Linked DNA regions of Homo sapiens: regions 1, 2, 4, 5, 6 and 7 are each linked to region 3. The links come from fine-mapping of genetic effects on gene expression. A gene starts in region 3. Each other region holds a variant in brackets. All regions are shown on one strand. Distances are between the middles of the regions. Region 1 overlaps IGF1R (insulin like growth factor 1 receptor). Region 2 has its middle 29 kb from the start of LUNAR1. Region 3 holds the start of IGF1R (insulin like growth factor 1 receptor). Region 4 overlaps IGF1R (insulin like growth factor 1 receptor). Region 5 overlaps IGF1R (insulin like growth factor 1 receptor). Region 6 has its middle 100 kb from the start of IGF1R. Region 7 overlaps IGF1R (insulin like growth factor 1 receptor).

The links.
Region 1: its variant is fine-mapped to the expression of IGF1R in blood mononuclear cells (TOPMed, PIP above 0.99).
Region 2: its variant is fine-mapped to the expression of IGF1R in whole blood (TOPMed, PIP above 0.99).
Region 4: its variant is fine-mapped to the expression of IGF1R in whole blood (INTERVAL, PIP above 0.99).
Region 5: its variant is fine-mapped to the expression of IGF1R in whole blood (TOPMed, PIP above 0.99).
Region 6: its variant is fine-mapped to the expression of IGF1R in non-classical monocytes (Schmiedel 2018, PIP 0.95).
Region 7: its variant is fine-mapped to the expression of IGF1R in whole blood (TOPMed, PIP above 0.99).

Annotation. Positions count from the first base shown.
Region 1 is chr15:98,859,183-98,863,524 of GRCh38, forward strand. All of the region lies in intron 2 of IGF1R (insulin like growth factor 1 receptor), which reads left to right. Among named protein-coding and RNA genes, the nearest start is that of MIR4714, 77 kb to the left of the region's middle. The variant C/A (reference allele first, on the strand shown) is at 1,610.
Region 2 is chr15:99,041,398-99,045,739 of GRCh38, forward strand. No RefSeq gene overlaps it. Among named protein-coding and RNA genes, the nearest start is that of LUNAR1, 29 kb to the left of the region's middle. The variant T/C (reference allele first, on the strand shown) is at 1,704.
Region 3 is chr15:98,645,993-98,650,334 of GRCh38, forward strand. IGF1R (insulin like growth factor 1 receptor) reads left to right here and starts at 2,547. Exons shown (of 21, transcript NM_000875.5): 1 at 2,547-3,683. The coding sequence starts at 3,590. It overlaps IRAIN (IGF1R antisense imprinted non-protein coding RNA), which reads right to left. Exons shown (of 1, transcript NR_126453.2): 1 at 1-4,342. RefSeq lists an enhancer at 649-1,270 and silencers at 1,282-1,331, 1,342-1,811, 1,872-1,931, 2,302-2,571.
Region 4 is chr15:98,691,057-98,695,398 of GRCh38, forward strand. The region is part of intron 1 of IGF1R (insulin like growth factor 1 receptor); the gene reads left to right. Among named protein-coding and RNA genes, the nearest start is that of IRAIN, 42 kb to the left of the region's middle. The variant C/T (reference allele first, on the strand shown) is at 2,547.
Region 5 is chr15:98,944,585-98,948,926 of GRCh38, forward strand. IGF1R (insulin like growth factor 1 receptor) reads left to right here. Exons shown (of 21, transcript NM_000875.5): 20 at 3,990-4,124. Among named protein-coding and RNA genes, the nearest start is that of PGPEP1L, 61 kb to the right of the region's middle. The variant G/A (reference allele first, on the strand shown) is at 2,226.
Region 6 is chr15:98,544,942-98,549,283 of GRCh38, forward strand. No RefSeq gene overlaps it. Among named protein-coding and RNA genes, the nearest start is that of IGF1R, 100 kb to the right of the region's middle. The variant C/A (reference allele first, on the strand shown) is at 2,522.
Region 7 is chr15:98,954,344-98,958,685 of GRCh38, forward strand. It overlaps IGF1R (insulin like growth factor 1 receptor), which reads left to right. Exons shown (of 21, transcript NM_000875.5): 21 at 2,718-4,342. The coding sequence ends at 3,099. Among named protein-coding and RNA genes, the nearest start is that of PGPEP1L, 51 kb to the right of the region's middle. The variant C/T (reference allele first, on the strand shown) is at 2,358.

The sequences.
Region 1 (4,342 bases), 210 kb after region 3:
TCGGTGTAAAAATTCAGCATGTCCACCTGCATAATTATGACCAGTGTATTGAAAGCACATTTCATTTAGTTTTGCAACAGCCGATGAGGTAGATTCTACCAACATTGTTTTACGGAAGAACAAATGGAAGCCTGGAAAAATAAATTGTCTACCTCACACACTTCGCAGGTGGTAAACACAGGATTTGAACTAAGACATACTTGATTTTAAAGTGTTTGCTTTTCCTTTGCACTACTGCATCTGCGATGTTTGCACTCAGACACTCTAGAATATTTGGTGTTGCATGTTTTTGCCCCAAGAAAGAACCCATTAAAATGAAACTTTCCAGTTCGTAAGCTTTGCCCTCAAGAAGGGAAAGAACTTCTTGCAAGGTTTCTGAAACAAAAAGAAAATGAAAAGTAACTTTACTGTATCTGGGTTTTCTGATTAAATTACGGTTTTTGCAAGCTTGTGCATTTCTCAGTGTCCAGATAGCCAGGATTTTTCCTTTTAATAAATATCACTTTAAAAAACAAACACACACATTCTTAAATGCATGATTAACTGTATAGATTGATTTAGTTATAAGATGTCCTAGCCTAAATATAAGAAGGTGTATGTGTTAGAATTAATTTCTTCAATAAAGAGAAAGAAATTCAGGAATTGTGGTTCTGTTGGTCTTCTGTACTGTATATTTTTGTGCAGCCAAAGCAGCATGCCTTGCTTCTTGGTTTCATGACCACATGGGTAGTTTCTTGAAGTTTTTTCTTTTGAGATGGAGTCTTGCTCTGTCACCCAGGCTGGAGTGCAGTGACGCGATCTCGGCTCACTGCAACCTTCACCTCCCGGGTTCAAGCAATTCTCCTGCCTCAGCCTCCCGAGTAGCTGGAATTACAGGCATGTGCCACCATACCTGGCTAATTTTTGTATTTTTAGTAGAGACGGGGTTTCGCCATGTTGGCCAGGCTGGAGTTTCTTGAAGTATTGACTGATCCTTGACTCTGAACTGTATGATCAAAGACTTTTGAAATGGCACACCGTTTCTTAACATTTAGGCCAATTTCAGTTGCTCATATCCAAAAATAAGTCATGATTTTCGGAGTCAGTGCGCAGCACTTAGTACAACAATCCAAACCCTTGTACAGACCATCCTAGTAGAAATGTGGATCTTGAGTATCTCAGCTTCTTAGTAGATTTTGAACTCCGTGAAAGCAGGAGCCAGGCCTCTCACAGCAAGTCTCTCCAATATGCTCAGTAAATATTTGTCAGATCGAGCAATGACCAGATGATGAAATACATTAAAGCCTTAGGGAGAACTGAGACTACTGCACCAGTTTTTGTGCACTATCATGCTGGAAATCTTTCCAACATGTATTCTGTACTTCTTTGCTTCTTACTCCAGTGAATATAATTTAGTCATTTCTGGCCAACTTGAGGACATCAGCGAGCATAAATTGTTGTATTATGCATAATACAGTGATACCCTCAAGGCTGAGTGGGAGGCAGTTTGCCCTCTGCTGAAGGTTTCTTGTGCTTATTGTGTTCTTATGGTTTGGTTTTACCATTTTTATGTCTCCATTTCTGTTTAATAGACTTATTTCAGTAAGAAGAGAAAGCCGTCTCCATCAGC[C/A]CCTCTGTAGGTGATTATTTGCCACTTCCTTTTTGCTGTGAGTGCTTTGAAAACAGATTTCTAAGCTTGTTAGAGTTATGTGTTAAGAGTAAATAGGCAGTAAGTGAAACCAAGCTTCTTCCTGGTGCTTGACTACCCCAGAAATGTTTATTTGCTGAATAGTTGAGTTCTGGAAAGGTGAGGTATAAATGTGTGATAAATTTATTCCTTTGCATGATTTTTTTTTCTTTTTCTTCCCTCCCTCCCTCCCTCCATCTATGTCTCTGTCTTTCTCTGAACATCTCTCCGTCTCAGTCTGTCTCTCTCATGATAGTTGCTGGAATAATTTAAATGAATGTAACTCATTTACCCACATCGAAGCCCAACTCAGTAGTGAAAAAACAAATCTTCCAAATGAATGCACTTTCCCCTTGATGTGCTATATACAAGACCTTGGCACACCTAGTTCAATGACATAGTATTTTAGAAGGGCCTCCTTACACCTTCCTCTCAGATAAATATACATGCAGGGACATTCTGAAGAAGTTTGTTATCGGTCTTCTCCCCTCCTACTATTAGCTCCGCCCTCCTAGTCCTTCTCTTTCACCATGCTGACCCGCGTAGGGAGGACCCTTACACCCTCTGCATGCAGCGCTGGTGCTCCTTAGTGTTCATAACCCCAACCTCCATGGCCTCTCTCGCAGTTCTCAGGTTAGGCCCTGCTTCTAGGGGACATTAGCTTTCCACCCTCTACTACATACTTCCTAGTTGTTGCAGCCTTTGCAAGCAAAACTTGTTTTCATTTGGGAGACAGCATGGTCTGACAGAGCCTAGATCCTGGGGTGAAGACATTCTGGGTTTGTATCCCGTCTTTACCACCTCTGAGCCTCTGATGCTGGACAAGTCAGCAAGTCTTTGCACCTTAGTCTCCTTTCTGTAAAAAGGAGCTTATGGGGATGTAATCAGAGAAGCCTTAGCATGGCTCTTGGTACAAGGCACGGACCAAATCCATGGTACGCTCACTCCTTTCCTTTCAGTAATACTGCCTAAATAGGGCACATGTACCTAAAAGGATTTTGTACATTCCTTGACAGCAGAATTCTCATCTTCTGTTGCATATCCCATAATGCTGGGAACACAAAATAAAAATGGTAGCTTTTCACATTCACTTTTGGCCTCAATTTTTTGTTATTCCCCAATGAGGATCATTTCATTTGGGGCTGGTCTCCGGAAAAAAGTAGATCAAGCTTTTCAGATGAGATTTGGGTGAAACCCTGACAAACTCTTTTTATTGCCTTCCCTACCACATAGTGGTGGATCAGGAAACTGTAGGGCTTATGATGCTGGGAAATTTCTGCTAATGCAATAAAGATTTTTGCTGTTGAAAGAATTTGATCTGTTTTATGTATAACATGCAGAGAGCAGAAGCATATATTATCTGTAGCAGATGATAGAGCAGGGTATATGGGCAAGTTAGAAAAACACAGTTCTCACTACATTTGAAGAAAAAGGACAAGGAGTTGTCACAAGGATCCAGGAGAGTCGCACATAATTTTCTGTCGTGCATTTTGTTGACTGTTCCTCTTTGCATCCTTCAACCATCTTAACTTCCCACTTGCACCTCGCTGGAAGACAAATCTAAGCTAAATTAAATGCTAGGCAATATGTCAGAATGGAAAGGGCCCTCAACTTGGGATGCCCGGTTCTCTACCAGCCTGAATAAACTCCAGCAACAGTATTTCTCTAGGAATCATCTGTAAAAAGTAGAGGTTTGTCATATCTCTAAACTAGGGATTCACCTTATTTATTAAGCTATCAGTGACTTTATCTTGAGGTGCACGGCTTTTAGTAACTCTGGTTCAAGTGCAAGGAATGCAAAGTTAAGTGTATCATTGGAGGTGGGATTTTTGAGTTTGTCAGTCATTTATTGATTTGCATGTATCCTTATAGTTCAAAGGTCTTTTTCTCAACTTAGTTGATGATCATGCTGTAAGTTGTTTTCTTTTGCTTTATCAACTTTTAAAAACGTTTATTAACTTTTTAATTTGAAATAATTTCAGACTTGCATAAAGGTTACAAAGAGTACCAGGAGTTCTGGAACACCCTCCACCCAGCTTCCACAGATGTTAACATCTTACATAACCGTAATACGGTTATCAAAACAGTGTTCACTCCATACTCCAGTGCTGTTAATCTCCAGACTGAATTCGGATTTCACTATTTTCCCACTGATGTCCCTTTTTTTGGTTCCAGATCCAAGAGACGATCCTACCTGGCATTTATTGTGTTCAGTTTTTCTAATTCTGGGACGTTTTCCTGGGTTTTCTTTAGTCATTCACGAAGTTCGCACTTTTGGAGAACATGGGGCCAGTTATTTTGTAGAATATCTTTCTGTTAGAGTTTGTGGATGTTTCCTCCTGATTAAATTTGGGGGGTACATTTTTAACTTGGAGATCACAGAGGTGCTGCTGTTTGTGTCTTTGCGCATCCTGTCAGGAGATGCGTGATGTTTCCTTTCCTGGTGCTGTTAGCTTTGATCCCTTAGTTAAGGTGGTCTCTGTGGCTTCCTCCATTATCATTACTATTTTTCTCTTTGTAATTAGGAAGAATCTTTTGGAGGTAGATACTTGAGACTATCTAAACAAGCATTCTGTTCCTCATTATTCTTTCACCCACTAATTTTAACATCCATTACTGTGATGTTTGCCAAATGGTGATTTTCTATTTCTGTTTTCTACACTTAGTAATTGGATT
Region 2 (4,342 bases), 400 kb after region 3:
AATATTGAAACAATAAAAAAGAACTAGTCACCCTCAGAGGATGACAGGAAACCAATTCATTATCTTGGAAACTGATGAATAAAGGAAGAATCTAGCATCTATCCCCGTTTCTATATGAACTGTACTGCTGGGTAACCAGATAGCAGTTGGAGAAGGATCTCCTTAGAACAGTATTACAACCATTAAATAACAAAACAATAAAAAAGATAGAATGTCACCATTTTGCATCCCCAGTGAATTATTAGATGTAGGCACTAAGCATCAACAACTGCTAACATCAATAAAAGAGACAACAGGGCTTTATATGCCTCCTATTGTCTTGCCAAACCAAGGGATCAAATCTGAATCTGATACAGTTTCTGGATCCAGCTGCCCAAATTTCTGGAAATACAGAAGGCAGAGAAATGCAGTGTACTGTGAGGATGTGAGCAGCAAACTCTAAGCTGAAGGAAGCTAAACCACTCAGGGAGAGCCCAGGTTCCCCAAGAGATTATCTCTACGGAAAAGAAAAGGATGAGAGGGAATTTACAGATTAAAAGAGACTTGAAGTCTTAAATTCTTTAACTCGGCAAAGCAATGCTGTAGTTTTATGGATACACCATTTGGTTGATAAAATTATTATTATTATTATTATTATTATTTTGAGATGGAGTCTTGCTCTGTTGCCCAGGCTGGAGTGCTGTGGTGCAATCTCAGCTCACTGCAACCTCCGCCTCCTGGGTTCAAGTGATTCTCCTGCCCCAGCCTCCCGAGTAGCTGGGATTACAGGTGCATGCCACCACACCTGGCTAATTTTTGTATTTTTAGTAGAGACAGGGTTTTACCATGTTGGCCAGGCTGGTCTCAAACTCCTGACTTCAGGTGATCTGCCCTCCTCAGCCTCCCAAAGTGCTGGGATTACAGGTGTGAGCCACCACACCTGGCCAAATAAAATTATTTTTAAAGGAACTAATAAGTATAGAAACCAGCACAGTGGTTACTTAAGAGATAAAAGAGGGTTTGTGATTGGGAAGAAGCAGACAGAGGTGCTTCTGGGAAGACTGGCAAAATTTTATTTCTGACTTGAATGATGTTTATCTTAAAATCATTCAGTAAGCCACACATTTGATTCATGTGGCTTTCTGTCTCTGGGCTTTCTTCACAATAAGAAGATTATTTTAAAACATAGATTTGAATACATGGCAATAATGCTACATAAGGTTGGAAGAAGGGCAAGTGGAATTAAAGTGGTCTAAAACCTTTCTATTGTCCTGGGAGAGGGCAAATGTACTGATTACCTTTAAATATACTTCATTGTAATGTGCATATTGTATACATGCAAATATATATAATTTCTAGAATAGCAACTAAAAGAATAGAAATAGAATATATAACTCTCAATGCAGTAGAAAAAATAAATGAAATAATAAAACTTATCCCACATTTTTAGGCAAGAAAGGAGAGAAAAAGAGGCATGGAGCAGGTATATTACGGGTTGAATTGAGTTCACCAAAAAGATATGTTGAAATCCAAAGCCCCAGTGTCTGTGAAAGTTACCTTATTTGGAAATAAGGTCTTTGCCAATGTAAAGATAAAGTCATGCTGAATTAAGGTGAGCCCTAACCTAATATGGCTGGTGTCCTTATAAGAAGAGAAGAGACAGACAAAGGGAAGGAGTCCATGTGACCACAGGGCCAGTGGAAGTGATGCAACTGCCTGCCAAG[T/C]GCACCAAGGATGGGTGGCCACCAGCAGAAGCTCGGAAGATGCAAGGAAGGATTCTATCCAGAGTTACAGAGGGAGCATGGCCCAGCTGACACCTTGATTTCAAACCTGTAGCCTCAAGAAATGTGGATAATGACCTTCTGTCATTTTAAGCCACCCCGTCTGCAACACTTTCTTATGGCAATGTGATGGGTAAGCTTATGTGTCAATGTGACTGAGCCCCAGGATGCTTAGATACTTGATGAAACATTATTCTGAATGTATCTGGGAAGGGATTTTTGGAAGAGATTAAATTTGATTTGGTAGACTGGGTAAAGCAGATTGCCTTCCTCATAGGAGTGAACCTCATCCAAGCCACTGAAGGCCTGAATGGAATGAAAAGATGAGTAGGAAAGAATGAGCTGGGACATTGGTTTTCTCCTGCCTTCAGACTGGAACTGACATCATCAGCTCTCCTGGGTCTCCAGTTTGCTGGAGTTTGGACTTCTCAGCCTTCATAATCACATGAGCCAATTTCTTATAGCAAATATCTTTGTCTATTATCTATCTATCCATCATCTATCTATCAATCAATCATTTACCTAATTGTCCTATTGGCATATGTATCCTATTGGTTCTGTTTCTCTGGAGACCCCAGGCTAATACAGCCATACCCGGGAAACTAATACAAGGTAGAACAATTGGAAAGCACAAAATAAAGTGCCAAATGTAACCAAATACAGGTGGTGGCTCATGCCTGTAATCCCTGCACTTTGGGAGGCCGAGGTGGGTGGATTAATTGAGGTCAGGAGTTCGAGACCAGCCTGGCCAACATGGTGAAACCCCATCTCTACTAAAAATATAAAAATTAGCCAGGCGTGGTGGTGCACGCCTGTAGTCCCAGCTACTCAGGAGGCTGAGACAGAAGAATTGCTTGAACCAGGAAGGCAGAGGTTTCAGTGAGCTGAGATAGTGCCACTGCACTTCAGGCTGGGTGACAGAGCCCTGTCTCAAAAACAAAAACAAAACAAAACAAAACAAACAAATGTAACCAAATATATCACAAAATGTAAATGGTTAAATGTTCCAGTTAAATGACAATGACAGGGTGATTTTTCAAAATTTCAACTATATGCTGTTTTCAAGAAAAACATCTAAAATAAAAGCCCACAAAAATTAAAATTAAAAGATTGAAGAAATCACAAAATGAAGCTGATGTGGCCACATTAGTATCAAACAACATATGCTTTATGGACAATAGTTTTAGCAGAGATAAGACAATCACTTCATGATAAAAGATTGAATTCAACAGGACTATATAATAATTTAAAATGTATATGTACCTAGTATCATTTCCTCAAAATACATCAAGTAAAAAATGACAAAATTAGGCCAGGTGCGGTGGCTCACGGCTGTAATCCCAGCACTTTGGGAGGCCGAGGTGGGTGGATCACCTGAGGTAAGGAGTTTGAGACGAGCTTGGCCAACATGGTGAAACCCTGTCACTACTAAAAGTGCAAAAATTAGCCTGGCATGATTGCGCATGCCTGAAATCCCAGCTGCTTGGGAGGCTGAGGCAGGAGAATCACTTGAACCCAGGAGGCAGAGGCTGCAGTGAGACGAGATTGCACCACTGCACTCCAGCCTAGGCGACAGAGCGAGAATCAGTCTCAAAAAAATAAAAGACAAAATTATACAGAGAAAGAGACAAACCCTCATCAATGTGGAGATTTTTAACAAAATCAATGAGTAGCTTAAAAAGATGTGGAATATTATCACATACTAAAAGGTTACACTATATAATATGTATGTTATATCCTATAATAATGCAAACATAAGGAAACCAAACAAATCTGTAGAACTGGCCCTTCTCTTACTCCTACTATAAGCTCTTAGCTGCATTGAAAGATAAAAACAATGATGAACTAATCAGATTAGAAGTGAAGTCCAAACAGTGTTATAATTGCCAAGTATAGTCTTTTAAATAAGGGTTCATATGAACTGTCCTTAATGATGAATGTTGCCCTAAGCGTGCACTGCACCTAGAGACACTTGCTGATAGTAAGATACAGTCACCAGGATTGCTTTGACACTTGAAAGCTAACCTTCACTTTTCAGGAAGGGACACTGGAGCCACTGGATATCCCCATTGTGGGAACTGGGGAGAACTGTGTTCCCCACCTAAAAAAATAATGCAAGATGGATACCAAACTTACATGTAATTTTTTTTTTTTTTTTTGAGACGGAGTCTCGCTCTGTCGCCCAGGCTGGAGTGCGGTGGCGCCATCTCGGCTCACTGCAAGCTCCACCTCCCCGGTTCACGCCATTCTCCTACCTCAGCCTCCCGAGTAGCTGGGACCACAGGTGCCCACCACCACACCTGGCTAATTTTTTGTATTTTTAGTAGAGATGGGGTTTCACCGTGTTAGCCAGGATGGTCTCGATCTCCTGACCTTGTGATCCACCCACCTTGGCCTCCCAAAGTGTTGGGATTACAGGCGTGAGCCACTGCGCCCGGCCAATCTCTCCAATTTTTCTAGCAATCTTGAAAGTAATGAAATATTCAGTCCATACCTTAAAACATTTCATTAAATGCAATGGTAAACATTTAGAAACCTCTTCTAAGGTTTTTGGCACAAAAGACCAAAACTCACATATCATT
Region 3 (4,342 bases):
AAATTTTTGTTCCTTTTTTTTCCCTAAATATTAAGCTATATAATGATACATCTCCCACTTCACTGTTTAAAATAACTTAATACGATTGATTTCCTACTACTTCAGGAAAACACAAACATTTAAAAAATTCACAAATAAAAATCATTTTAGTAAAAAAAAAACACACAAAAACAAATCCTACAACCCCTACAACAACCTATATACATTTAAAAATTCTATAGACCTCTTTATGTTCTTGGGGACAAATAAACAGGCATATTTATTACTAATACTAAAAATACATTGGGTAGTATTTGAAGATTTTATATTAGCACTAGCCTTTTAAAAATCAGCTCTAAATTTTTGTCTTACAAGTATGTATTAAAAATTCTGAAATCAAGTATAATGAAATTATATATCAATATTCCTTTGCATTTAACTCCAGAGTGGATCTGCAGGAATCAAGACCAACCTCATGCAGAGAACTTAAGAAATATTTAAAAATTAGTAGACTGGACTTTAATTCTTCATGTGTAGTGCCTAATTTTTAAATAATACATTTTAAGATTCTAATAAATTTATTTCACTGTTAAATCTAGGAACATCCAAAACTGAAACTCTTTATTTAAAAATCAAGCTGAATTTCAGTTAAACAAAACCATCCCATCATATGAATAACTTTCTTAGGTAAAACAAGGTTTATTTTCTTTCTATACAACTGACTCTGAATTGAGCTAGAAATTTCCAAGGAGGAAAATGATCTAGGAAACAACTTTAGAAAAAAAGGGCTAAGTTTCCGTTATGATAGCTTTTGACTTGTTTTCAGCTCTTAAAAAATTATTTACGAACGATGGATACACGTTCTAATGCAGAAGTATTTTAGAATTAGAGAGTAAAAGAAACCTACTACCTTCCTTTACATCAGGTCCCTTCTACCATCCTACCCGATTGTTTGAGACAACCACTTCTTATCTCGACAATTCACAACTCTTTTATTAGCTATCTTAAAAAAATTTATTACTGGCATCAATTAGCCTGAGTCATGAAACCGGACCACATTAAGGGCGACACATGGTCCAATCACTGTTTGTAAAAGTCCACGTATTTCAAACTCCTCTCTCCTGCCACTGCTGGGCTGTTTCCCTCTTTGAGGACCTGGTCTCCGCAGCATTTATTCATTAGATGGCAGTCCTAGGGGAGTCTCGCTTTGGGGAAACCTCTCCTCCTGCACATTCAAGAAAACAACCGCGGAGACTTAGGGTCGGTACTGGTTTCCAGTCACTTACGTAGCAAACGAAGCAAGAGGAACGTGCCTGGGAGGACCCGAGACAGGTGCGGGTGGGTTTCCGCAGTAGCCGCTGATCCCGAGTGCATGCGGCGTGTTCCCGGGTCGGGACCGCGGCCAAGGGAGGCTTCCCGGCCCCAGCCTCCACCCCCTCCTCGGCGCCCCGGGACCCGGACACGCCCCCCGAGCTTCGGAGACCCGCAGCGTGCACGCGCCCCGGCCGCTCCCCGCAGCCGCCCACGTGGTGGAGCCCTGAGCTGCGCGAGGCCGCGGAGAGCGCTCAGGGCGGGCGGCTGGTCCGGGAGGCCACGCCAGCGCGACCCAGCCGAGTCGGCCCCCAGCCCGGGCCCCCACATTTCCTCCCCCGGAGGGAGGGAGGCGACTCTCCGCGGGCTGCCCTCCCCAGCGCCCGCCGCGCCCTCTGGCGGCCGCCGCGGGGACGCGCCCGGGGCACGCGGCGCTGCCTGTCTGGGCCCCCCTTCCGGGGCGCGGGGCCCGCGAGGGGCGGCGGGGTCCTCTCTCCTCGAGCCACTCTGGGCCGAGCCACACGGGCCGCGCCCTTCCCCCTCCGCTCCCCCTGAGCCCCCAAACTCCGGGCTCCACGGTCGCAACGCCGCGGGCACCCCAGCCTGGCGTGAAAGTGCCCGGCGTAGTAGCCTGGGGGGGGGGTCCCCTTTCTCCCAGGTGCGCCCCTTCCGCCACGTTCGGGCTTTCCAGTACGCAGCGAAAAAAATGCCGCATGCACGCATTTATTTATTTTGCAACAGCTGCAAGAAACAATGAAGCTTTTCAAGAACCGGGGAAACGCGCTTTCCAGCCGCGCTGTTGTTGTTTTCAATGAACCTCTCCCAGCCCCGCACTCCCCGCCCACCCCTCCCCTCTCCTGCCCACCCCTCCCCTGCCTAGCCTTTCCCTGGCTACCCACCCCTGCCCCGCCGAGACCGGACCGGCGGCGGGGGCATTGTTTTTGGAGTCGGGCGGGAGGGGAGGGCGCGTGCGGGGTGGCCGGCGCAGTGCGGTGGGGGCGGGAGCGGGTGGGCACGCGCGCGTGTCTCTGTGTGCGCGCGGGAGGCGGTGGGGCGGGAGATGGGGGCGGCGCCTCGCAGTCTCGCGCCCCACGCCCGGGCTCCGCTCCGCACGTCTTGGGGAACCGGGCTCCGGTTTTTTGCGCGCGCCGGCCTGGGCCGGGCCCTCGGCGCGCCGCTGCTGCGGCGGTGGCCGCTCGAGTGTGCGAGCGGGCGCGTGTGCGCGGGCCAGGGCGCGCGCGCGCGCGCGAGCCCCCAGTGTGTGGCAGCGGCGGCGGCGGCGCGGCGAGGCTGGGGCTCTTGTTTACCAGCATTAACTCCGCTGAGCGGAAAAAAAAAGGGAAAAAACCCGAGGAGGAGCGAGCGCACCAGGCGAACTCGAGAGAGGCGGGAGAGCGAGAGGGACGCCGCCAGCGAGCCTGCCCACGGCCGGCGCTCGCAGACCCTCGGCCCCGCTCCCCGGATCCCCCCGCGCCCTCCACGCCCCTCCCGCGCGGGGGCAGCTCCACGGCGCGCCTCGCCTCGGCTGTGACCTTCAGCGAGCCGGAGCCCCCGCGCAGAGCAGGCGGCGGCGGGCGGGGGCCGGGCGGGGGCCGGCGCGGGGCGGGCGGCGGCGCAGAGCCGGGCGGCGCGGCGGGAGTGCTGAGCGCGGCGCGGCCGGCCCGCCGCTTTGTGTGTGTCCTGGATTTGGGAAGGAGCTCGCCGCGGCGGCGGCGGCGCTGAGGGAGGAGGCGGCGGCGAGCGGAGCCAGGAGGAGGAGGAGGAGGGGGAGCCGCTCATTCATTTTGACTCCGCGTTTCTGCCCCTCGCCGGCCTCGCCTGTGACCCGGACTTCGGGGCGATCTTGCGAACTGCGTCGCGCCCTCCCGCGGCGGAAGCTCGGGCGTCCGGCCGCCTCCCGCGCGGCCAGGGCCGGGCTTGTTTTTCCTCGCCTAGGCAGATTTGGGCTTTGCCCCCTTTCTTTGCAGTTTTCCCCCCTTCCTGCCTCTCCGGGTTTGAAAATGGAGGCCGACGACGCCGACAGCCCGCCCCGGCGCGCCTCGGGTTCCCGACTCCGCCGAGCCCTGGGCCGCTGCTGCCGGCGCTGAGGGGCCGCCCCGCGCCGCCCGCCCCGTCCGCGCACCCGGAGGGCCCCGGCGGCGCCGCCTTCGGAGTATTGTTTCCTTCGCCCTTGTTTTTGGAGGGGGAGCGAAGACTGAGTTTGAGACTTGTTTCCTTTCATTTCCTTTTTTTCTTTTCTTTTCTTTTTTTTTTTTTTTTTTTTTTTTGAGAAAGGGGAATTTCATCCCAAATAAAAGGAATGAAGTCTGGCTCCGGAGGAGGGTCCCCGACCTCGCTGTGGGGGCTCCTGTTTCTCTCCGCCGCGCTCTCGCTCTGGCCGACGAGTGGAGAAAGTGAGTATGTGCCCGCCGCCCGCGGCCACTGCGGGAACTTTTCCTCCGAGGGGCTGCGCCCTGTTTGCGAAACCCGAGTTGCCACCGTCGCAGCTGTCGGGCCCCCGGGCTCGGGAGCGGCGGGGTGGGGCGCAGGGCGGCTCTGCCGGGAGGGAGGCTGCAGCGGACCCGGGACCCGGGCTCGTTCGTCTGGAGCCCCGCGGGCCCTGGCTCCGCGCATCCCCGCGCGGGAAGGGCTTTTCTCTTTCTCCGTCCTGACAGCCCAGCCGTGTTTCCCGGCTAGGCGCGAGGACTCGGTAGGGAAGTTGGTGCCGGGGCGGGCTCCGCGGTTCCCGGGCCCCGCGACCCGCACCTCGCCCCTTCCATGCGCAAGAGCCTCTCCGCACACAGCGCTGATCCCCTGCGGCGCGCAGGCAGCAGCGACAGCACCCTGGGCCGCACCGCGTCTCCGCTGCTGGGGCTGACCGGGCAGTGGGGAGCGGGCAGCCGCCCGGCCCGCGGGGTGCGAGTTGCCCTCGAGGGGGGAGGTGCCCTGCGGAGAGGCCCCGAAGCCCCAGGACACGTCTCCAAGCGCCCGTCGCTGCCTCCCGTCGCCCAACGTGCTTTTGCCCCTCGGGCTCCTCGGGTTCCTGGCCTTGCCCGTCACTTTGGCCCGCTCC
Region 4 (4,342 bases), 45 kb after region 3:
TAACATTCTGTGTCACCATGGTAATTTGCCACAGCTAAGGAACCAGCATTAGTCCATGACTGTCAGTGAACTAAACTCAAGACTTTTTTTGGATTTTACCAGTTTTGCCCAATGTTCCTTTCCTGGTCTAGGATCCTGTGCAGAATAGCGCATCACAGCACATTACATTTAGCTGTCTCCTTCACCTCTTCTGGTCTGTGACAGGGTCTCAGACTTTCCTTGTCCTTGGTGACTTTGACAGTTTCGAGGGACACTGGCCAGGTTTTGTGCACACTGCCCCTTAATTTGGAGTTGTCTCATGGTTTTTTTTGTTTTTTTTTTTTTTTGAGACAGAGTCTCACTCGTCTCCCAAGCTGGAGTGCAATGGTGCAACCTCGACTCACTGCAACTTCTGCCTCCCAGGTTCAAGCAATTCTCCTGCTTCAGCCTCCCGAGTAGCTGGGATTACAGGTGCCTGCCACCACACCCAACTAATTTTTGTATTTTTAGTAAAGATGGGGTTTCACCAGGTTGGGCAGGCTGGTCTCGAACTCCTGACCTCGGGTGATTGCCCACCTCGGCCTCCCAAAGTGCTAAGATTACAGGTGTGAGCCACCCTGCCCGGCCCATGGTTTTCTTATGGTTAGTCTGGGACCATGGGTTTTTGGGAGCAAGACCACAGAGCTGAAATGCCCTCCCTTCAGTGATTTGTCAGCATGACCTATCACCATTGTTGTTAACCTTCACCACCTGGATGAGGCAGTGTATGCGTGGGGACATACATCTATTTGCCCCACTGACATGAGGGTTGGATCTCTAGAAGAGGAGTCACTGTTCAGAGGTTATAGGCATTTGTATTTTTTGGCAGATGTTGTCCTTCAAAATGGCTGTACACATATGCTCCTCCCAAAAGTAGGAGAGTGCCTGTTGCCCCATGTCCTCACTCAAGCTTGGTGTTATTAGATTGGTAATTTTTTTGTGTGTGAATCTGTTAAGTTAAAAATATTTCTTTCTTTGGCCGGGCACAGAGTGGCTCATGCCTGTAATCCCAGCACTTTGGGAGTCCGAGGCGGGCAGATCACTTGAGCTCAGGAGTTCAAGATCAGCCTGGGCAACATGGTGAAACCCCATCTCTACCAAAAATACAAAAAAATTAGCTGGGCATGGTGGTGCTTGCTTTTGGTCCCAGCTACTTGGGAGGCTGATGTGGGAGTATCACTTGAGCCCAGGAAGTTGAGGCTACAGTGAGCCGAGATCGTGCCACTGCCCTCTAGCCTGGGTGACAGTGTGAGACCCTGGCTCCAAAGAAAAAAAGAAGATTGATTGAGATAGGGTCTTGCTCTGTTCAGGCTGGAATGCAGTGGTGTCATCATCATAGTTTACTGTAGCCTTGAACTCTTGGGCTCAAGCAGTCCTGCTCCTTTGGCCTCCCAAAGTGCTGGGGTTACAGGCATGAGCCACTATGCTCAGCCAAGCTAAAAATATCTTAGTGTGCATTTCTCTAATTGTCAGAAGTGTATTTATTTACCATACCCTGGAAACCTTATGTAAGATGATGGTGAGTTTGGACTTTCCAGTAACATTTGGAAACTGTTTAGTACCAAGCTCTCATTAACAATATAAACAAAATAGGGGTCTACCCTTAAGGAATCAAAGCCATTATCTAAAAGCTCTTTCCCGCAACAACTACCTGAGATAATGTCCTTGGTCATATGCCCCAGCATTTAAAAATGGAGTTAGTGAGAGTCTGTTGTTTACCACCTGATACATTGGTAAGAGCTGCTTGATGGTATGGGGACATCAGTAGGGAGGATATAGACGTAGCCACCCCCGCCCTAGATAGTAGGGGCCTCAGGGTGGGGTAAGCCTGGGTGGGGGAGGTATGAGTGGTGGAACAGTGGGAGACCCTGGATCCTTAGTCTCCAGCGTGATTGCATTTTGCCAAGGCTTTGTCCCATGTCCCTTTGTCCCGTGTTCCATTTGCCCGTGGTGTTGCCTAGAGAGCATGGAGGGGCTGGTGGAGCATGCTCTGTGGTTCCCTAACCCAGGGCTGTGTGGGGAGAGCTTGCAGCACCCCCCTGACCCCATATGAACGTCCTTGCTATTTCCTGCTGTGCCATCCAGCAACTATAGGATGCTGTGCTGTGGCTGGGAGACCTGTTTGGTCTTGGAAGCTGGGTCCTGGATGAGCAGAATGAGGCAGGCATAGAGGTGATGTTGGCTACGGGCAGGGGAGCGTTTGCTTTGCCTTGGAGTAGTGCCATTTCCATGTAGAGGGGCAAGATTTACCACCCTGTTGTGGGGATTTGAGACTTTGGGTTTTGTTTTCCTTTACACCTTGAGCTTTGTTCTACAGCAGGTCCCTGGGAAGACTGGTCCACAAAGCTGCTGAATGGGGCTGCTGTCCTTCAGCCCTGCCTCCTGCTGCAGAATGCAGAGGACGCTGTAGACTTGCTTGGTGGGTGCCTGGGGTTTTCTGCCTCCCTGGTGCACTGGGCACAGCGGCTTGCCTGCCTTTTGGGTCGTCTCCACCTCCCAGGGATGTTTTTGTTCCCTGATCGAATGAC[C/T]TCCTGTTTTGTTTGTTTTTTGAGACGGAGTTTTGCTTTGTCACCCAGGCTGGAGTGCAATGGCATGATCTCGGCTAACTGCAACCTCTGCCTCCCGGGTTCAAGTGATTCTTGTGCTTCAGCCTTCTGAGTAGCTGGGACTTCAGGTGTATGCCACCATGCCACGCTCATTTTTGTATTTTTAGTAGAGATGGGGTTTTACCATGTTGGTCAGGCTGGTCTCGAACTCCTGGCCTCAAGCAGTGCGCCTGCCTCAGCCTCCCAAAGTGCTGGGATTACAGGCGTGAGCCACCGTGCCTGGCCTGACCTCCTGTCTTCTGTTTTTGCCCACTGTCAAGGGTAGACTTCTTCAAGGCTGTACTTGTGCTATCCTAAAGAGGAGTAATGGGAGACATTTCTGACTTTGTCAGCATGCTGCTTGGCAGCACCTGCCTCGTTTCTGGTGACCATTTGGAAATGTGTCCTTTATCTGGTAGCAAGGAGCATTTACATTGATCCCTATGCACTTAATTGGCATACTTTTATTCCTCTGGATTTTTTTTTTAAAGCATAATTGTTCGTGTCTACATGATGTAACATGCTGCTGACTTTTAAGCAAATTAACAGAGTTCGTGCTGAAGCGCAAGGGTGCAGGGAAACAAAATGGGAGGGTTATTAAAGGGGTGAGGCGGCTCCTCAAAGATGTCACTGCACCATTCATTCTTGTGTTCCTGGCCCATGGCAGGCTCATTAATCCTCCACGACAATCCATTAGCATGCCTGTCAACCCTTCAGAGAAGATGAGCCATAGGAAGGCTTAGGGATCCCCACTTGAACTGCTGTGTGGCTCTATGAACATCCCCACCTTCCTGGAGTGAGGTGGTTGTGGCCACCTGACTTTCCCCATTTTTTTTTTTTGGACCTCAGCCTCCAGCGCTCCTGGGCCAGACTCAGGGTGGGGGGGATGCAGGTGCCAGTGACTGACACTTGGCCCCTCACACTTCACTGCCTGATTTGCTTTAAAGGCAAGGGTTGCTCATGCTTGTCTGAGCTCTCCATCTGTTTGAGAATTATATTGTTCTCAACTGGAACTTGTAAAAGAGAAAAAAATGTACTTCTCAATTTCCATGGAAGAATATAGATTTTCTGGTGGGGTGGAAACTTTCTTAGCATGAAGGGATCTTTGTGTGATCTGCGCATCAGCACTGAATAAAGAATGGGTGCGCCGAAGTCGGGGAGGCCGACTTTCCTGTGGCTTGCTGGGGAAAGTTTGAACTGTGTGTAAGCAGTGCGTGGAAGGAAAGCTAAGTGTGGAGATAACGAAGGGAATGGGATTTAATAGAAACAGGGTGTGATGAGTGGCAGTTGCCTGATGAAGTGGAAATCTTGTGTTCCAAATTTGTGAGATCCATTTCTGTCCTCTAAGGAAAATGTTGTATGTGCAGGAGGAGTTCATGTAGTTGGGTTAGATTGTGTTTTCTGTCTTTATTTTTTTTCCTGCCTCTATGGGTTGTGAACAAAAACAAGAATTTGATATTCTGCAGTATAGTTAACTCGTGCAAACAGTGTATGCTTTTCAGTGGGATATAAGGTCTGAAATAATAGGATTTTCCCTAGTAAGTCAGTTTCATTCCTTTACATGTGGGTTATGAGATACAAAGTGAAGCTCTGTAAAGCTTTTTACGAGCTCCCTGTGTTGCCCTCCTTTGACGGGTCAAGGCATTGGGGTTGACAGAGGTTTCTACTCTCAGAGGCTTTAAAGAGGTGCCCACTCTGGTGAGATGGCTGTCAGCATGCACGATGTGTGTGAGAGAGCA
Region 5 (4,342 bases), 300 kb after region 3:
GATTGTATTCAGCAGCACGAAGCAATGATTCCTAAATAGTTAAAAATCTAGAAAGAAACACTAAGAATTGTATTGGGCTTTGTAGAAGAGACCCCAGAATTTTAGGATTTGGGATGTATCCCTGCAGTCAGGCCCAGTCCCCAGTGCACCTGCAGATCTTTGACAGCTGCTGGTTGAGCTTCTGCTAAGAGGTTTCCTTCCAGGGACTCCATGTTCACTGCCTCACAAAGGCAGGCCAGCCTCATGCTTTAGACATCCTTGCTCTTAGCAAATCTTTCGTGTTCTGCTACGTCAGCCTCTGTGTGACACCCATTGGACCTTCTCTCTGTAGCACAATTGCATACCTTGCTCTGTTCTTGATAAGATAGGTCTAGGAGTCATCGAAGAGGTGTGTCTGTTCTAGCCAGAACACCTCCAAGTTTCCTGCTGTCTTCCAGGACTTCATTCCCAGGCCCTTGGGCACTGTGGCTGCTCTCCCTGCAGCTCCCTGTAGCACCATGTCCCTCTGAAATGACAAGGGTGCCCTCTAGGCATGGAGGAAACCAGACGAAGGACTGGGGAGCTGCACCCCACAGCCTAGAGCTGTGCTTCTTCCCGAGCATCTGGATCACCCAACACATAATCTTTATTTTTTATTAAGAAGCTTTCCAAATAGTCACAAATAGCCAAGGTTATTTGCTTCTTTCATGACTAATTACCATCTGTGGGGAATGTGGATTTCTCTGTAGGTTTTAATTTGCTGGTGAGTGGGCCATTGCTACCATCCCCTCCTGGTGTGGGGAAGTATAGTTACTGAATGCTGCCTCCAGCCAGCACGGGCATTGCAGGGGGACTCACAGCCGCCGGTCTTCCCCCTGGGGAAACAACGTCAAGGTTCCTAATTAGAAAGGGCTTTACACAGAGACATGTATCTACTGTTTGAAGATTAAATCTGTCCATGAAATGGAAGACTTGATTTTATATGAAGTCATGAAGAGCCAACACCACATAGTAAAATACCGGCTTTGAAAAACACAGAGGTGTTGCATATTTCTCGGTGCTTCTGACTGGCTGTGTGGCCTTGGTTAAACCTCAGAGCTTCTCTGGCCTTCGGTTGCTCCATCTGTAAGGCAAGGTCTGTCTCGAGAAGTCTGCGGTACCTGAATAGATGTTGAAATGGCTCCTGTGGCAACTGGTATTGTGTAGAGATGGTTCAGTGTCCACACCTTGCAGTTGTCACATTAAGCTGTGAAGGACGACTGACTCTAGCACTCAGTGGTCCTCAGTGGCAGGTGATGTTGACCTCAGACAAGAGTTGCTCAGGAGATAGGCTTTGCAGTTCACCTCGACAAGCGTTTGTGGAGAGCTAGGTCTGCTACCTCCTGTATCGTTGCCTGTGGGTGATGGTAAGGCTCTTGGGGGTGTGGAAGATGCGGGGATGATGATGATGACGATGATGACGATGACGACGATGACAGCGTCGTCGTCGTCCTGGTCCTGGAAGGATAAAGTCTTGTGGAGAAGAGGAGGCAATTCTGACAGTTTGGGGTTGCATCATCTTCTTCACAGAAGAGATGAAGTTGTGTAGGCACCCTAAGTATGGATTGTCACAAAAAGAGCACTAGGAAGCGGGGCGGGGCGGGGCAGGGGTGGGGGGTTCCTGGCAGTGGGAATGCTGGGCAGGCATGGCAGTAGGGAGCACCTGCTGCAGGTGGGGTTGGTGAGGTTTCCTCGTGGGACTTAGGCTGCAGAGAGATCAAGACAGGCCTCAGCTGTTGTATTAGGCATCCTGGACTAATTCTTTAAGCCCTGTTAAGGTTTCTGAACCAGAGGGTGATTAGAGCTGTGCTTGAAGTTCTTGTTAGCCGGAGTATACAGCTGCATTGAGCAAGATGTTGTAACCAAAGGAGAGGTGGTGGTGGGCCAGGCAAGCAGGATCCTGCACACTCAGGGAGCTCTGAGGGACGGAAGGAGGGTGCCAGACCTTGGACAGATGTGAGCCTGGGTGGACAGTTCGCAGTGGGACTCCGAGGAGGCCAAGGGCATGGGTGACAGCAGGCAGACTGCTCGGGTGGAATGGGCATCAGCTGCAGGGAAGCCGGGGGAAGAACAGGGCACAAATCGGAGTTCAGTGTGAGACGCAGTGAGTTTGTGGGTAGCCCAGTAACTGGGAACTTGGAATGGAGCAGTTGGGCCGGGAGGGCCAGGGTGGGAGCCGTGCCGTGAGAACTGGCTGCCTGCAAGCC[G/A]CTGACACAGCCAGGAAGGGCACGTGGGGCAAGAGGAGAAGTGGGTCTGGGAGGGAGCCACATCCTCAGGCCATTTCCCAGACCAGCCTGCAGTCAGCAAAAGCAGAGAGCTAGTCATTTCTTCTTATTTTATTTTTAATTTTTTGTTGTTGGAGAGCTAGTCATTTCTTGTACCAAGCTGCATTTCAGATGTGTGGGTACTACTGCCACTGGCATCTGAGGCATGCTGCCTGTATGGCTGGGCTGGTTGTGGAAGGCAGAGCTTCCCGCACAAAGCTGATGGAGAGCCCCTTCTCCCCTGGGCCCAGGCCTCTCTAAACTGCACTTTTGGCCTCTGGGTGTCTTGTACAACATGAAGACGACAGCATTTCTTGGTCACTTGTAATTAAAAAGGACCTTGGGTTGGTCTGTCCTCTGATTGCTAAGATTCTATTTCTGTCTAACATCTACTTTTAGTATCAATTTGTACAAAAATCTTTGATTCACCGAAAGTAGCTGAAGCAGCGAATAAAACGTTCTCATACAGTCAGGAGCACTGTGGGCTTGGGCACAAGGTCAAGGTCCCAAGAGCTCTTGGTTGGAAATCTCCTGCCCCAGGTTTTTCCATGTGGCTTGACCAGCACCTGCAGCCCAGGACAGGTCCAGCTAGAATCCCTGCTCCCCACCCTGCTCCCGCCCCTACTTGGTGATGAGTAGCCTATTTTACTCCACCAAAGTGAACCACATGGAAAGGCACACAGGTCAGGGAGAATTTGTGAATTACGGAATTTGCCCTGGGAGGGCACATTTGTTTTGCAGATTCCAGCATTGTCTTTTTTAACATTCTGTCTGAAAGTTGTGTGTGTACTCTCTGTTTTGTTTTCCAGTGGTTTGATCTTCTAAACTGGCAAAGCTGCATGCATATGGCAGAATTGCTCACTACAAAGTTATTCCTCAGCCAACTTCTCTGCTTAAGGATTCTTTGTCCATGATACCCCCTCCCAGCCAGTGCAGCCCACCCTGGTCCCCCCACCTGTGACACAGAGGCCCTGCAGGCCAGCAGCTCCCCAGCTCTGTTGTGGGTGGGGGAGCAGCAGGAGTTCTCTTCTCCCTTGGCCCAACTGGACCTCAAGATCCCTATAGATCTTCTAAACATTCCAGGTCCCAGGCCCTCACCCCAGACCAATCAAATCAGAGTTTCTATTGGGTGCCCAGCCCTCTGTTTAAAAACCTCCCCAGGAGATTCTCCTGTGCAGCCGGCAGTGAGAACCACCTGGGTAGAGGTTTCCAAAATTGTCTGATTGTAAAAATCACCTGAGGAGCTTGGTAAAGCTTGACTGTCCCAGGCCTCATTTGAGGCTACTAAGTCAATGTCCAGGCTGGGGCTTGGACAAGAATGTCATTCTTTTTGGGTCAAAGCCAGGTTAGGTGATACCGCCTTGCCAGATAAATGGCCGGGACTAGGTAGATGCTGAACCCAGTATGCTCTGCGTTCAAAGCACAGATCAGGGGCTTCCTGACCGTGCAAGGGATGCCGGAAGCGCCCTCACCACCTTCCTTAGCTCCACCACCGGGGCTGAATTTAGTTTACGGGGAACATTAGCAGCAACAGAGGGAGGATGATATCCCGCACTTAGCCCAGGGCCTGGCTCGCTGTCTGACAAGCACTGTCACCATAGTAAGGACAGTTTATCTGCTCGGGATGTAAGAAGTGCTGGAAAGGAGGGGGCAGCATTGTTCAGTCCATCCCTTTCCAAGCTCCTCACAGTTTTTTTCTCCCTGTAGGTCCTTCGGGGTCGTCCTCTGGGAGATCGCCACACTGGCCGAGCAGCCCTACCAGGGCTTGTCCAACGAGCAAGTCCTTCGCTTCGTCATGGAGGGCGGCCTTCTGGACAAGCCAGACAACTGTCCTGACATGCTGTACGTACTTCCTGGGCCCTCCGTGCTCTTCTGAGTTCTCTTCTCAAATACCTGTTTTCTTGGGTCACAGGAGATTAGGAGATTAAAGCCATTCTCTCTGGTCCTGCGCCTCCCTTGCCAGGCGTGGCTAAGAGGTTTGTCCTTGTGGAAGGAGCTGAGTGGGTTGGTCGACCTGTGCTTTTCCGTGGGTACCTTAATTCTACCCCATATTCCGTAAT
Region 6 (4,342 bases), 100 kb before region 3:
ATGAGTCCAGCTCCCACTTCAGCCTAGTCATCAAGAATTAGAGATCACACGGAGGCAACCCATCAAATGCCCATCAAGTGTCCAAAGTGGTTCACTGGGTCCATGTTCTGAGCCAGGTTTTTGATCATGTTAGGTTCATTCCTGCCTCAGGGCCTTTGCACACACAGTTTTTGTTGTTGTTGTTGTTGTTTTGGTTGTTTTTGTTTTTGAGATGGAATCTTGCTCTGTCACCCAGGCTGGAGTGCAGTGGCATGATCTCGGCTCACTGCAACCTCTGCCTCCTGGGTTCAAGTGATTCTCCTGCCTCAGCCTCCTGAGTAGCTGGGACTACAGGAACACGCCACCATGCCTGGCTAATTTTTGTATTTTTAGTAGAGACAGGGTTTCACCTTATTGGCCAGGCTGGTCTGAAACTCCTGACCTTGTGATCTGCCCACCTGGGCGTCCCAAAGTGCTGGGATTATAGGTGTGAACCACCGCACCCGGCCTGTTTTGTTGTTTTGTTTGGGCCTGGCTTTCCCCTCTGGCTTTTGAAATAACTCTTCCTCATGTTACCTCCTCAGAGAGGCTTTCCTTGACTACAATATCTAAAGTTACTCCTCCCAACCACTAACCATTGTCCTAGTGCTTTGTATTATTTCTATGCACCATTCATCCATCTATATTTCTTTCTTTCTCTTTTCTTCTATGTTATCAGCGACTTGTATAGAATAGATTCCTAATAAGTATTTATTAAGTTATTGAAAGAATGAGGCCAGGCACAGTGGTTCATGCCTGTAATCCCAGCAATTTGGGAGGCTGAGGCAGGCAGATCTCTTGATGCCAGGAGTTGGGATATCAGCCTGGGCAACGTGGCGAAACCCTGTCTCTACCAAAAAATACACAAATTAGCTGGGTGTGATGGTGTACGCCTGTAGTCCAGCTACTAGGGAGGCTGAGGTGGGAGAATCACTTGACCTCAGGAGGCGGAGGTTGCAGTGAGCTACAGTGGTGCCACTGTACTCCAGCCTGGATGACAGAGAGAGACCCTGTCTAAAAAAAAAAGGAAGAAAAGCATGAAGAGATTAATCACAGTGCTAAGGACTCCTCTGAGGTCACATCCAGGCTCAGTGGGGCAGAGCACTGAGAAATGAGCCTGTGCTGTCATACGTAGGATGTGGGGAGGCCTGGCTCACCAGCACCTGAGAACCCTGACTTCCATATTATCCATAACGGGGGTACAGGCTAGGGCTTTCCCCCATCAGCACCCAGCAACACACTACCATCTATCCATTCACAGGTGGGAGTCTCCAGGAGGGGAAGCAGGTAAGGCACAGGCAGGGCCCTGCGCAGGTGGAGACTGGTTTTGTGTCTGGGGTTTGTTCCTTCTGGTGGGTTCCTGGTCTCGCTGCCTTCAAGAATGGAACCGCAGACCTTCACAGTGAGTGTCACAGCCCTTACAGATGGCACAGACCCAAACAGTGAGCAGCCGCAAGACTTAATGTGAAGAGCAAAAGAACAGATATCCCACAACATGCAACGGGACCCAAGCAGGTTGCCTCTGCTGGCTGGGGGGTAGCCAGCTTTTATTCCCTTATCTGTCCCCGCCCATGTCCTGCTGATTGGTCCATTTTACAGAGTGCTGATTGGTCCATTTTACAAACCTCTAGCTACAGAGCGCCTATTGGTGCATTTTTACAGAGCACTGATCGGTGCATTTTACAAACCTCTAGCTAGCTACAGAGCGCCCATTGGTGCGTTTTACAATCCTCTTGTAAGATATAAAAGTTCTCCAAGTTGCCACCCGACCCAGAAGTCCGGCTGGCTTCACCTCTCAGTTTCGTGTTCTACTCCAATACCATCTGTACACCTTCATGCGGGGATTAGGGATTTGACAGGTGAATAGGTTACTCAATAGCGTTCAGAGTTCATAAACCAAGACTCTACCTGCTTCCCACAGCCTGCGTTCATGGGAAAGAGGCAAGAAAATAAAACCAGCCTCAGCTATATCGAATCCTTTCCTTCCCCTCCCAAGTCATTAACAAAGACTGACACTGTAGTATTTATCAAAAAATCTTGTTCCCTAAGTGGTGATACAGAATAATTATCTCAGCATGCAATCAGCTCAGCGATCTTCTTCAAAGCAATTTGTGGCAAGGATATGCAGTTTTTAAATAGATTAAATTTTCAAGAGCTTGCCTCTGAAACCTGGTCAGAATGTATTTACAACTCACCTGGTGAGATGATGCGTATCTTAAGCTGGAATTCTCTTTCGTTAGGTCTTGCTTAATTGAATCAAGCAAAGTCATTTTGGGATCGTCCCAAAAGAAACCCTTTTATCTCAAGGCAAATGTGTTTTAACAAGGCCCTAAGGTGAATAAAAGCTAGGTTTCCACTCACCGGAGCTCTCTGCTCCTCCTTTCAAAAGCCTACCACTCTACTTCATTTGTTTTTCTTTTAAGTGAGGAAATTGCTTATGGAGTTAACTGTTGCCAGTGAAAGCAACAAGTTGCCTCTCCCCTCCTCTACTCTTAAGAAACAC[C/A]TTGTTTCCCTCCCTCTCTTCCTTCCTTCTTTTAAAATAAATAAGTTATGCATAGCTGGAGCGTGCATGCAATGCTCAGGCGTGGTCCTGGTATAGCCAATAGCGTCATATTCAGCCCTGTTTAATTCCCACTGTCTTGGGTCTAGAATTTAGGCTTTTGAGAAATCTTTATTGAATTAATGAAAACTCAAAGACCACGATTCTGCATTCCCCCAAATCCTGAAGTGCAGTAGGAGCCCATGCAGGGCTTGGGACGGGCTTTTTGCCTCAGCAGCCAGGACAGCCTCTGCATCCGTGACCACCTCCCCGCCCCCCTCGCATTCCCCCCCATCCCCTGGTGATATCCTTCTAGCGCAGGCTCGTGCTCTGGAGGCGGGGTGGGGCCGGGATTCTGCAGCTGTAACCAACTCCCCCGCTGGGGGCATGGGGCTGGTCCCTGGGGCGCACAGAGAAGTTGTGACAGATAATTGACGTGATCGGGAGGGGCGTCCAGGCAGACCTCATGTGACTTCTAAAACCAACCCACAAATCTGAAGCGTGGCTTGCGTGGTCAGCCGCCTGCCTGGCACCCGGTGAACAGTTTCTCCCGGACTCTCTGCATCTAGCCCCAAAGAATCTAAGATTCTTTGTCTAGAAAAGTGCCCTGGTCTTCCCTGGCACCCTTCGCGGTGGGTTTCCTTGACTCCGCATAAACTCCCGTTCCAGCCCAAATCAGAGGCGGTCGCAGCAGCCGTTCCTCGTCTCCATCAGCATCCGCGTTGCCATTTCCCCGTCCTGAGCTGTTGCTCATATCAAATGTCACTCGGGGATGACTAAGAGCCGATGTTGATGAGGAGCCTTCAGCGTTACGGTAAAGGAGCTCGTGCAAACTTAGACCCCAGTCATCTGACGGTCACGTGGGCGGGCGTCGCGGCCCAGGCCCCCGCCTCCTCCGTCCTCCGCGATTCGGACATGACACGGTCCTCCGCGAAGGGCAGGCGTTACATAAACCCGGCGAGCTCACACCGTGCGGCGGGGAGCAGCGCGAACGCTCGACCCGGACACCTCCCTTCCAGGTCCCGTTCCGTAGGCGGGGCCGCTCCCGAGGCACAAGGAGGCCTGCGCGGCGCCCGAGGTGTCCGGATCCCAAAACAGGACCCCAGGAGTTTCTCACACTCAGGACTGGCCCCTAGTTGTCAATCCAGAAAAGGCATCCTCCGTCCTAGATCCAGCCTGTATTTCACGGAAAGCGTTTCCTCCCCCATCCCCAAAGCCGGCAGGGGTGGGGCGGAGAGGGGAGGCCCGGGGAGACTGACTCTATTATATAAACTTGTAATTGGCTCCGGTTCCTGCGGCTCGGGCGGCACTGCAGGACGTTTCCAACCAGATGGGTTGTGAGGCCCCGCGGCTTCCTCCTCTTCTTCCCTCCCCCTCCGCGCCCGTCCCCTGGCCAGCCAAGCCCCACCCTTCTGCCTTCCCAAGGCTACCAGAATTTCCCTGTCTTTCCAGTCCTCCCCTGCACAGGAGATGGCACCCAGAAAAGAAATGCATGATGATTTGAAAATGGTATTCCATTGTTAAACGAATGTATTCCCAGTCTGCTAGTCCTGGCTCCAGCTGACTCTTAGAATCAATCACCTCAGTAACTCAAATGTTCCAAGCTGGGAATCAGTCATCTCAGACCGGCATTCTCAAATGAGCTGGGCGTAGGGGGGTTGTCAAAACTCAGAGCGCTGAGCCCGACGCCCAGAATTATGTTCGATCGCTCTAGATTGGGCCCCAGAAATGTGTATTTCTTTCTTTCTTTTTAGAGGCAGGGTCTCCTTCTGTCGCCCAGGCTGG
Region 7 (4,342 bases), 310 kb after region 3:
GGGAGAGCATTCGAGAAGGATGGCGCCAGCCTCCCCAGAACTGACCTGTGGTTAAAAAAAAAAAAAAAATTGTGCTTTTTAAAAGATGAGTTTTATCAGCTCACACATCCTTCTAGAGTCTAATGGAGATTTTTTGTGTGTGTGGAAATAGTAAACAAGGTCTTGAATCCCACAGAGCAAAAAAGACTTCCTTTCATGGGCAGCACTGGAAGGGTTGTTACTCTGGAATGGTTTAAAAGAGGCGTCACATGGCTTGTTTGTGCTGATGTCACTGCCTCGCTGCTCTCCTGTGGCACCTCCTCGGTCCCTGGCCACAGGGCACAGAGCCAAGCACATCTCATGCTCTTGGCCCAGTTACGCTTCTGCCCAGGGGTAAGTCAGCTGGAGAGGAATTCACAGCCCAGGCATTTCATGTCGTTATGGCCTATTTTAATTTTTTTAACCCCAATCATTTTTCTTAGGAAGTGATGGGGAGTTTGGAAAGGCAGGCTTATTTGTCATCAAGCTGCCAGCTTTTATCAATGCAAACCACATCCCTGTGACATCTGTGACTGTTCCTTGGACAGTTAGGTGAGGGAGGGTCTCCTGGTGGCCCCAGGGTTACTCTTATTTAGGTTGAGAAAAATTCCTTTTTCCAGGATCGTTGGTGATCAAAGTGTAGTCATTCTGTTGCGCAGAGAACTCCATCCCAGCTCCACCCTCATGAATTTTGTAATCTTGGACAAATTATTTAGTATCTTAGTGCTTCTGTTCCCTCATCTGTAACATGGGGGTATATTATAGTCAGTAGCACCTGCTTCACAAACTCGTGAGGACTTCAGCAGTTCACACACATAACTGCCTCGCTGCCTGGCACCTAGCGTGCACATGGCATTCTACCGTGGGGTAGACTTTTAAAATTCTGGCTACAGAGATACTTTTCCATAAAAGTGGCCACATGGAACTCTCCAAATCTAAGAAGCATACTGTGGGGGCCTTCATATTTTGTCTAATTCTTTTCTCCCCAGAACAGGAACCTGCACCCTTCCTTCTTTTAAAGGGCGACGTGGTAAATAAACATTTTTAGACTTGCAGGCCACAGTCTCTGTCCTAATGTCCTCAGCTGGTAGTTGTAGCTGGAAAGCAGCTGCAGCCCACATGGAAATGAGGGAGCGTGGCCCCATGCCAGTGCAGCTGATGTAGAGGCGGGCAGCCCCGGGTTAGGCCCTGTGGAGACGCAGGCCCCCGGGCTCTAGAACGCTGAATTCTAGTGAATTCTGGATGGCTCTCCCTCACACCCAGGCCCACCCTCCCTCAAGGTTGCACCTTCTCCACCTGAAGGAAGCTGCCAGGTGGCCATAGGAGCCCTTCTCTTGGCAGGCCAGCTTCCAGGCCCAGTGGCTTCTCTTACATCAGGGGCCTCCCCTTGGAATGTTCCCTGAAGGCCAGACACGGGCAGGTAGTCTGTGGTCAAGCAGCCACCCTGACAGGAGGCTAGATGCCACTGGGTGTGCTTTGAGTTTCCTAGATGTGGAGAGTTCTGTGTGGCCACTTTTATGGAAAAGCATCTCTTTAGCCAGAATTTTAAAATAAAGAGGATAACTTCCTGGTGAGAACAGACGTGGAAAGGAAGGCACTTTGGTTTCACGCTCATGTAAGAGAGGGCTGTTGGCGGTCACTCCTCAGAACTATGGCCAGCCCTGGATGGTAGCCAGCTGCTTTTTGCCCCAAAAGTCTGTTTAGCTGGGTCTCTGCATTCTGGAAGCTTGTCAAAGCCCGGGCCTTTCCTGGGTCAGGGCAGCCGGCTTTCCTTGTCCACGTGTGGCCGGCTGTTTTCTTGGGGAGCCCCGGCCACAGCCGGCAGGACTCCCTTTGCTCCATGTGACTCTGAGGGCCTCACAGGTATTTGCAGCCCAGGTGCTGTCGGAGCCCAGCCGATGCGACCGACACACAGCACAAGCGTCATCCTGTTCTGCCTGTCCCTTGCGTGTGGAGGGGACTCGTGCCCAGGGCTCTCCTTGCTGGCTTGTTGGAATCTGGCTTCAGGTCTACACGGGGCCTCTCGTTTGGTCCAGAACAGCCTGGCTCATCGGCTGGGGCTTGCTTGTGCAGGGCTGGAGCGAGCACGTGCTAGATGGAGACAGCAGACTCGGAGTGTGCATTTCTTCGTGTTGCAAGCCTGGCCTCACAGTGCCTTCTTCCTTTGGTTGTCTGCCAGGGGTAGCCCTGCACCAGGAGGAAGCTTAGAAATAGCACAGGTGGGAACCGGAGAGAGAGCACTGTTGGGGAAGCTGCGGTCACTCATCAGCCTTCCTGGTGAGAAACCAGGGGTTTCCTGCTAATTCTGGAAAGGATGTTTCAGCAGTGCCTGCATGAGA[C/T]GCCTCAGATAGAAAACTGGTTATTTTTGTTTCTTAGCACTGCCACCATAGATAACAGCTGTCACGATGGACAGTGTGGACCTGGATTAGTCCTTCTTGGGAAAGGAGAGTTTGGGTTTTGTACCGTGGTGGTTCTGGGTTCTGGGGGAAGAGAATGGAACCGTACGAGGTAAAACAGGAGACTCTGAAGGCCACTTGGCCATCCAGGCAGAAAGCCAGGGATGGAGAGGGGCAGCAGGGCTGTGTTCAGTGCTCCCGCCGTACGCTTGTATGCGGGAAACCACTGCAGGCGGCCCATGAAGCCTCCTGGCCATGTGCGCCCTCCCGGTTTGGACCCCCTCCCGTGTGTCTTGGCTGCAGGTTTGAACTGATGCGCATGTGCTGGCAGTATAACCCCAAGATGAGGCCTTCCTTCCTGGAGATCATCAGCAGCATCAAAGAGGAGATGGAGCCTGGCTTCCGGGAGGTCTCCTTCTACTACAGCGAGGAGAACAAGCTGCCCGAGCCGGAGGAGCTGGACCTGGAGCCAGAGAACATGGAGAGCGTCCCCCTGGACCCCTCGGCCTCCTCGTCCTCCCTGCCACTGCCCGACAGACACTCAGGACACAAGGCCGAGAACGGCCCCGGCCCTGGGGTGCTGGTCCTCCGCGCCAGCTTCGACGAGAGACAGCCTTACGCCCACATGAACGGGGGCCGCAAGAACGAGCGGGCCTTGCCGCTGCCCCAGTCTTCGACCTGCTGATCCTTGGATCCTGAATCTGTGCAAACAGTAACGTGTGCGCACGCGCAGCGGGGTGGGGGGGGAGAGAGAGTTTTAACAATCCATTCACAAGCCTCCTGTACCTCAGTGGATCTTCAGAACTGCCCTTGCTGCCCGCGGGAGACAGCTTCTCTGCAGTAAAACACATTTGGGATGTTCCTTTTTTCAATATGCAAGCAGCTTTTTATTCCCTGCCCAAACCCTTAACTGACATGGGCCTTTAAGAACCTTAATGACAACACTTAATAGCAACAGAGCACTTGAGAACCAGTCTCCTCACTCTGTCCCTGTCCTTCCCTGTTCTCCCTTTCTCTCTCCTCTCTGCTTCATAACGGAAAAATAATTGCCACAAGTCCAGCTGGGAAGCCCTTTTTATCAGTTTGAGGAAGTGGCTGTCCCTGTGGCCCCATCCAACCACTGTACACACCCGCCTGACACCGTGGGTCATTACAAAAAAACACGTGGAGATGGAAATTTTTACCTTTATCTTTCACCTTTCTAGGGACATGAAATTTACAAAGGGCCATCGTTCATCCAAGGCTGTTACCATTTTAACGCTGCCTAATTTTGCCAAAATCCTGAACTTTCTCCCTCATCGGCCCGGCGCTGATTCCTCGTGTCCGGAGGCATGGGTGAGCATGGCAGCTGGTTGCTCCATTTGAGAGACACGCTGGCGACACACTCCGTCCATCCGACTGCCCCTGCTGTGCTGCTCAAGGCCACAGGCACACAGGTCTCATTGCTTCTGACTAGATTATTATTTGGGGGAACTGGACACAATAGGTCTTTCTCTCAGTGAAGGTGGGGAGAAGCTGAACCGGCTTCCCTGCCCTGCCTCCCCAGCCCCCTGCCCAACCCCCAAGAATCTGGTGGCCATGGGCCCCGAAGCAGCCTGGCGGACAGGCTTGGAGTCAAGGGGCCCCATGCCTGCTTCTCTCCCAGCCCCAGCTCCCCCGCCCGCCCCCAAGGACACAGATGGGAAGGGGTTTCCAGGGACTCAGCCCCACTGTTGATGCAGGTTTGCAAGGAAAGAAATTCAAACACCACAACAGCAGTAAGAAGAAAAGCAGTCAATGGATTCAAGCATTCTAAGCTTTGTTGACATTTTCTCTGTTCCTAGGACTTCTTCATGGGTCTTACAGTTCTATGTTAGACCATGAAACATTTGCATACACATCGTCTTTAATGTCACTTTTATAACTTTTTTACGGTTCAGATATTCATC